2 linked regions of the Homo sapiens genome follow. The protein of the gene in region 1 interacts with the protein of each later gene in a biochemical or structural test. Each region holds a gene or a part of one and is shown on either strand. Other genes may lie near its edges.

What was found. Proteins that work in one complex are often made in the same cells at the same time.
Region 2: the proteins of RASGRF1 (region 1) and MARK3 form a complex in vitro, tested with the Homo sapiens proteins (one study listed by BioGRID).

Annotation. Positions count from the first base shown.
Region 1 is NC_000015.10:79,084,041-79,087,792, reverse strand, and holds part of RASGRF1 (ras-specific guanine nucleotide-releasing factor 1), read left to right. Parts: intron 1-3,752. UniProt on the Homo sapiens protein: Promotes the exchange of Ras-bound GDP by GTP.
Region 2 is NC_000014.9:103,388,263-103,392,014, reverse strand, and holds part of MARK3 (MAP/microtubule affinity-regulating kinase 3), read right to left. Parts: intron 1-3,752. UniProt on the Homo sapiens protein: Serine/threonine-protein kinase. Involved in the specific phosphorylation of microtubule-associated proteins for MAP2 and MAP4. Phosphorylates the microtubule-associated protein MAPT/TAU. Phosphorylates CDC25C on 'Ser-216'.

The DNA.
Region 1 (3,752 bases):
ACTAGATCCTGCTCCTTCCGGCTACACATGTGTACAAAAATTCATCGCTGTTTCTTTTCTCAATCTTTGAGTAAAATCGATGGTGCCAGCAGCTGCTCCATGTTTCTCTTTGACTTGGGTGCCCCATGGCATAAGCCACAGAGCCTAGCATGATAGGTCTAACTCCAGGCCATTCTGTGACCAGGCTTGAGCCTACGAGAAGCTTTGGCTCAATCTGCTGGGCATGTACAGAGTGCCTGAGTTGAGAGGCGTCTACGAAGCCATCTGTTTAACTAGACTAGCTGGTGTCTGATGAAGAATTGGTTTCAGCAGGAAGCCATTTTACCAATGTCCAAGCAGACAGCTTCCTCCCTGAAGGGCCAGGGATGGTTTTTGAAGGAATAGAAACCAACTCTTGGCTGGGAACCCCTAAGTGGCTGGGGCAGAATCAGGGACCGTGCACATAGTAGATGCACAGGAAATGCACACTAAGCTGGACTTGTTAGCCTATCATATGTTAATTCCATATTTTATGTCCTCAACCTAGAAGCTGACTGTCACAGGCTGTGAGCCCCTGAGGAAGACAGACATAGATAAGGGTGAGCTCCTCACCCCGTGAAGATGCTCTAATAGCGGGATATGCAAGGCGCTCTGGCACCAAACACCAAGCCCATCCTAACATTGTGCAGTCTCATCTGGCTGTATCCAGACCAGTCTGACTGCCTCTGCTGCAGCCTCAGTGTCCAGGGAGCTCTAGCCTAGGATCCTAAGGCCTCATGAAGTCAGACTGGCACAGCCATGCCCCCTATTCCATCTGGCAGCTGCAAGCCACCTCCCTGGCCTGGGCCCTTTGCTCAGTCCTGACCTCTTCTGCTCCCAGCCCTGTAGCCCACACACTGAAAGCCCAAGTGCTGTTGACTTAGAGCTTGGGTTCATCTTCCCTAGAGGCTGGCCCTTGGTGTTCCATACCCTTCTTTGGCATGGAGTCCCCCAACCCCGACTTTTCCCACTCTCATTCCAAGCTCCCTGAAATAAAATGTCCAGCCCCAGCTTCTCAGTAGGGTACCCAGCCAAACCAACTCCAGCACTCCTTTCACTCTTCCCAACCAGGAAGGGTCAAAATGTGGGCACCAGGCTCTTCCTGATTCTCTTAGGACAGAAGAGACTCAGACAAATCCTGGCAGCCAGAACCTCAGAACCTGATGTTGTTGGAGGTCCCAGAAGCTGGGGGGGGGGGGTCTTAGAACCTGTTGTCTACCCACTTAGTTCCCTTCTCTAGAGACAAGACAAAGCCCCACTCCTGAGTCCTCATGCACAGGACACATTACTGGTTGGCCTGGCAGATTCAGATCAACAACAGCCCCGAGGTTAATGAGTACACTCATTTTACAGATGAGGAAACAATTTCATCTGTGGCTGCCCAGCAAGGCAATGGCAGAAATGAGATGCGTTCTCTGGCTTTCTCACTCTGTAGCTATTCTGTTGTCACCACAAAGCACACCCTCCTTGGAGTTATAACACATTCAACCTCTCAGCCAATCAGAAAAATGAAAAGCTGAATGTAGAAAAATAAGGTTGCTCTAAAAGCAGCAGCCCTTAGACACAGAACCCTGGGACGCTGGTATACATATGGTGCCAACAACGCAGAATGTAAGATGCTTGCACCTATAGGAAACCAGCAAGACTACCCAACCCGTTCCAGACCATGCCCAATCCTAGCAGGTGTGGGGCCCCAGGATCAACTGTGTGGGCTACTCATCACCCACCCCATCCCCCAAATGTTCCTAGAGTTGGAATGAAGTTGAAGAGGCACAGTAATTATGCCTGGAGTGGGACAAGGGAATATCGGCTCCTTGCGCCTATGCTTGGTGACAGTGTGGTGAGGATCAGAAACAAATCGTACATCCACAAGCCTGAACTAAAATTCCACATTGTTTATTCACGCAGCAAACATTTTGGCCCTTGGTGTCAGGCCTGTGGTAGGTCCTTCAGACACAGAGAAGAAGAAAACTTAATCTTTGTCTTCAAAACACTCACAGTTGAGTAGGGAGCTCGCCTCTCTCCTCAAAACTCACTCCCACAGTAATCACCAAGTGATGGCAATTCTTCCCTCCTGAAGAGCCTGGGACTCTTTCTCCCTGCCTTGCCTTGTTCAGGAGCTCATGGAACCCTGCCTGAGACTTATTGTAGCTATTCTGTTGTCACCATAAAGCACATACTCCTTGGAGTTATAGCACATTCAACCTCTCAGCCAATCAGAAAAATGAAAAGCTGAATGTAGAAAAATAAGGTTGCTCTAAAAGCAGCAGCCCTTAGACACAGAACCCTGGGATGTTGTGAAAGCATCAGTGGCTCCCATTGCCTTTAGAAAGATATTCAAACTCCCAACCATGACCTGGAGTACCCAGTAAGATCCACCCTTTGCTGGCCCCTCTAACCCAGAGCCACCCATCCCACTCTCCTCCTTCCTCATCCTGCTTAGGCCACCACTTTTCAGAGCTGCATGTGCCTCCCCTTTCCTATCTCAAGGCTGTGGCAGAAGCCATTCCCTCCACCTGAAATGATCTCCCACCAACCATGCCCTTAGAATGAACAGCTCCTTCTTCTCCTGCAGGTCTTAGCCTAAACGTCACCTCTGTCATCACGTGCATTTACAGCACTGGACTCTTCATTCATACAGCTGATCACAGTCTGTGATTACCTCATGTATTTGGCCAGTTGCAAACCATCCTTCTCCCCACTGGAATGTAAGCACCAGGAGAGCAGGAGGCAGGCAGAGGCAGGAGACTAATCAGGGGCTGCTGGAACCCAGAGTCCAGGTGAGAGAGGTGGAAGCCCTGAGAGGATGAAGGAACGGGGTCTTTACGATTAAAAAAAACTTCACCAAGAGACACTCACGTGGAAAATTGGCAAGACCTGCCATCCCATTGGTTGTAACAGAAAAGAAGACAGGATCAAACCTGAAGTCCATGGTTCTGCCTGAGGCCACCAGGCAGATGCATGTCACCAGTAGAGAGGGGAGAGCTGAAGACAAGCAGGTTTATGGGCAGTGGAAGAGGATGAGTGGCAGTGATCTCATCACATTTAATCTCAGGGAGGTCACATTTGAGAAGCCCAAGGGCAGAAAAGGGCTTTAATGCCCCCACCCTCTAGTATGGTAAGGACACTTATTACAGAAACCAGCGGAGCCCCACGAGGAGGACAGTGGGTGGTGTGTGCTGAGAGGGGTGGACCGAACAAAACGGCATGTGCAGAAGCTCAGCAGGTGGCGGCCCTGTTGTCCAGAGCCCAGGGAATGAAGTGATGTGGCTGCCAGGTGCACCGCAGGGGACGTGCAGGCTGGCTGAGAATAGTGCCAGCTGGGCAGAGCCTCATGAGGTCACTTTGGGGTCTGCCTGCACTCAACGCTTTCACAGCCTGGCCTGGCTGGTCAGCCTTTGCTTGCACTTCTTCAAGAGCAACGAGCCAGCACTGGGAAGTTGAATTTGGCGGCTCGTCTACACTAGGATTTCAGTTTTCAAGACTGCCAGGCAGGTGCCATCACTCCTCCTTCATAGTATTTGCCAAACCTGCACAGGAGAAGTAGGATTTGAACCTTCTCTCCCACTGGGTCACTATAGACAAATCCTTAACTTCCCTTCATCGATGATTTTCTGCCTCATTCTGAGGAGCCCTGGGGGCCACACTCCCACATCAATCAGAGCAGTCCCATTTTTAACTGTTTTATATGTTAGGTTTCCACATGAGATTTTATCTTTCCTAGTGCTTTAAAA
Region 2 (3,752 bases), on another chromosome or scaffold:
TTACCAGGCTTACGAAGTGTCATATCCTTTGAAATTCAGGTGAAAAATATGTTTCTCATTTTGCCAGTATAGAAAAAGGATGTATCCGTGGCTCCATATAACTATAGAACATAAACTGAAATGCAAACTGTTTGGTTGCCTTTAAAAAGCATATTTTGACCAGGTACAGTGGCTCACGCCTGTAATCCCAGCACTTTGGGAGGCCAAGGCGGGCGGATCACCTGAGGTCAGGAGTTTGAGAACAGCCTGGCCAACATGGCGAAACCCCATCTCTACTAAAAAAAAAAAAAAAAAAAAAAAAAAAATAGCCAGGCATGGTGGCGGGAGCCTGTAATCCCAGCTACTCGGGAGGCTGCGCACGACAATCGCTTGAACCCGGGCGGCAGAGGTTGGCAGTGAGCCGAGATTGCACCACTGCACTCCAACCTGGGCGACAGAGCAAGACTCCATCTCAATTAAAAAAAAAAAAAAAGCATATTTGACATATCAGCCAACTATAATGTATGAATTCAAGCTGGATTCTAATTTGAACAGTTTAAAAATTAGAAATGTGAGAAAATTTAAATACTGCATATTTGATATTAAGAAAATATGATAAAAGTATTGCTTTTTTCTTAAAACAGGCTTTATCTCTTCTAAAAGCTTTAGAGAGGAAATGATACTGCATTTGCTTCTTCATTTATAAATGAAATAAGATTGGCCACTGAGCTGCGCTGTTGAGTACATGGGGGGCTAAGTACATACCAGGGTTTCTCAACGCTGGCACTACTGACATTTTAGGCCGGGTAATTCTTTGCTGTGGAAGGCTGTCCTACGTACTGTAAAATGTTTAGTAGCATTCCTGGTCAGCCAAACCTTTCTCCAGCTGTGATAACCAAAGATGTCTTTAGACATTGTCAAATGTCCACTAGAGGGCAAAATCACCCTGTGGCTGAGAAGCATTGATAAATAACATTCTATTTTTTTAAATTTTCCTATAATAAAATATTTTAAAAAATAGTTTTGACTGAGTGTGGTGGCTCACACCTGTAATTCCAGTGCTTTGGGAGGCTGGGACAGGAGGCCTGCTTGAGCCCAGGAGTTAGAGACCACCTTGGGCAATACAGGGAGATCTCATCTCTACGAAAAAATTAAAAATTAGCCATGCATGTGGTGGGGCACGCCTGTAGTCCCAGCTACTCAGGAGGCTGAGTCGGAAGGATTGCTTGAGCCCAAGAGGTCAAGGTTACAGCAAGCTGTGATTGCTCCACTGCACTCCAGCCTGGGTGACAGAGCGAGATACTGTCTCAAAATCAAAATAAAATCTACAGCAAGCTTGTCCAACCCACAGCCCTAGGGCTGCATGCAGCCCACCACAGCTTTGAAAGTGACCCAACACAAATTCATAAACTTTGTTAAAACACTGTGAGATTTTTTTTGCAGTTTTTTTAAAGCTTATCAGCTATTGTTAGTGTTAGTGTATTTTATCTGTGGCCCAAGACAATTCTTCCAATGTGGCCCGGGGAAGCCAAAAGATTGGACACCCCTGATCTACAAGCTTAAAAAAAAGTTTTAGAAATACTCTATGTACAGGTACAACTACATCTCCTTGTGGAGCCTAAGCTAGAGATCTGGGGCCCAGTAGAGGCTTTGCTACTAAATAGTTAGTGGTCTTCTGTCATTACTAGCAGCCTTTGTCACCTCTCTGAGTCTCAGCAACCTCACTGGATCAGATTGAGTAGTTCTTTTGAGCTATAACACGATGCAGCAACAGTGAACTTTTTTTTTGAGATGGAGTCTCACTCTGTCGCCCAGGCTGGAGTGCAGTGGCGCCATCTTGGCTCACTGCAAGCTCCGCCTCCCGGGATCACGCCATTCTCCTGCCTCAGCCTCCCGAGTAGCTGGGACTACAGGCACCTGCCACCACGCCCGGCTAATTTTTTATATTTTTGGTAGACACAGGGTTTCACCGTGTTAGCCAGGATGGTCTCGATCTCCTGACCTCGTGATCTGCCCGCCTCGGCCTCCCAGAGTGCTGGGATTACAGGTGTGAGCCACCGCGCCCGGCCTTTTTTTTTTTTTTTTTTTTTTTGAGACGGAGTATCCCTCTGTCGCCCAGGCTGGAGGGCAATGGCTTGATCTCAGCTCACTGCACTCTCCGTCTCCAGGGTTCAAGCGATTCTCCAGCCTCAGCCTCCCAAGTAGCTGGGATTACAGGTGCCCGCCACCGCACCCGGCTAATTTTTGTATTTTTAGTAGAGACAGGGTTTTGCCATCTTGGTCAGGCTGGTCTCGAACTCCTGACCTCAGGTGATCCACCTGCCCCGGCCTCCCAAAGTGCTGGGATTACAGGCGTGAGCCACTGCACCTGGCCAACAGTAAACTTTTATATACCCATTCACTAAGGGTGGACATTAATATTTGGAAATCAAACAAACAAAAACAAATTAGTGTACAAGGATGAAGATAATGTTGCAAGTTGTCTGCTTTTTTTTTTTTTTTTTTTTGGAGACAGAGTCTTACTCTGTCACTCAGGCTGCAGTGCAGTGGCATGATATCGGCTCACTGCAACCTTCACCTCTTGTGTTCAAGTGATTCTCCCACGTCAGCCTCCTGAGTAGCTGGAATTACAGGCATGCACCACCGCACCTGGCTAATTTTTTTTTTTTTTTGAGATGGAGTCTGGCTCTGTCGCCCAGGCTGGAATGTGGTGGCCCAATCTCGGCTCACTGCAAGCTCTGCCTCCCAGGTTCATGCCATTCTCCTGCCTCAGCCTCCCGAGTAGCTAGGACTACAGGTGCCTGCCACCACGCCCGGCTAATTTTTCGTATTTTTAGTAGAGACAGGGTTTCACCATGTTAGCCAGGATGGTCTCGATCTCCTGACCTCGTGATCCGCCAGCCTCAGCCTCTCAAAGTGCTGGGATTACAGGTATGAGCCACCACACCCGGCCTGCCTTTTCTTAGTCTTGATCTAATAAGCGACATTCTTATCACAGTTATATACAATTACTTAAAATTTAAATAAGATTCCTGGGGTAAGCACAATAAAAAGTATTTTTACAGAATACTAAAAGAAAACTGTTCTAGTCACAATAGCCAAAAATGTCCATCACTGGTGAGTGGATTAAAAAAAATTGTGGCACATCCAAACAAGGAAATACTTACTCAGCAATAAAAAGGAATGAACTACTGATACTGATACACATTCAAATAAATCTCAAAAGCACTACTCTAAGTGAAAGAAGACACAAAAGATTATTTACACTGTGACTCCATTTACATAGCATCCTAGAAAAGGCAAAACTACAGGGACAGAAAGCAGATCAGTGGTTACCCAGGGGCTAAGAAAGGGAGAGGGCACTGACTATACAGGGCCATAAGGGACCTTTCTGGCAATGGAAGTGTTCTACATCTTGATTGTGATAGCGGTTACATAACTATACGCTTGTCAAAATTCACCAAACTGTATACTTAAAACAGATGAACATTACATCTCAACAAACCTAACTTTAAGAAAAAAGGTTCTCAACAGAATGAGAGCTCCCATTCATTCTTGTACATTCACCACTCAATTGGCAGGAAGTCTAATACTTAGCAGTGCAGTAATGTAGGTAATTAATATGGACTATACCTGAGTTATAACACTGACACAAGGGCTCCACACTGTGAAAGCTACACAGCTCCTTCCAGAACATGCCAATGCAAGAGTTAAAAATGTAACAGGGCATGGTAAATTAATGCAACGATGTGTGATAAACTTGATTTTTAAAA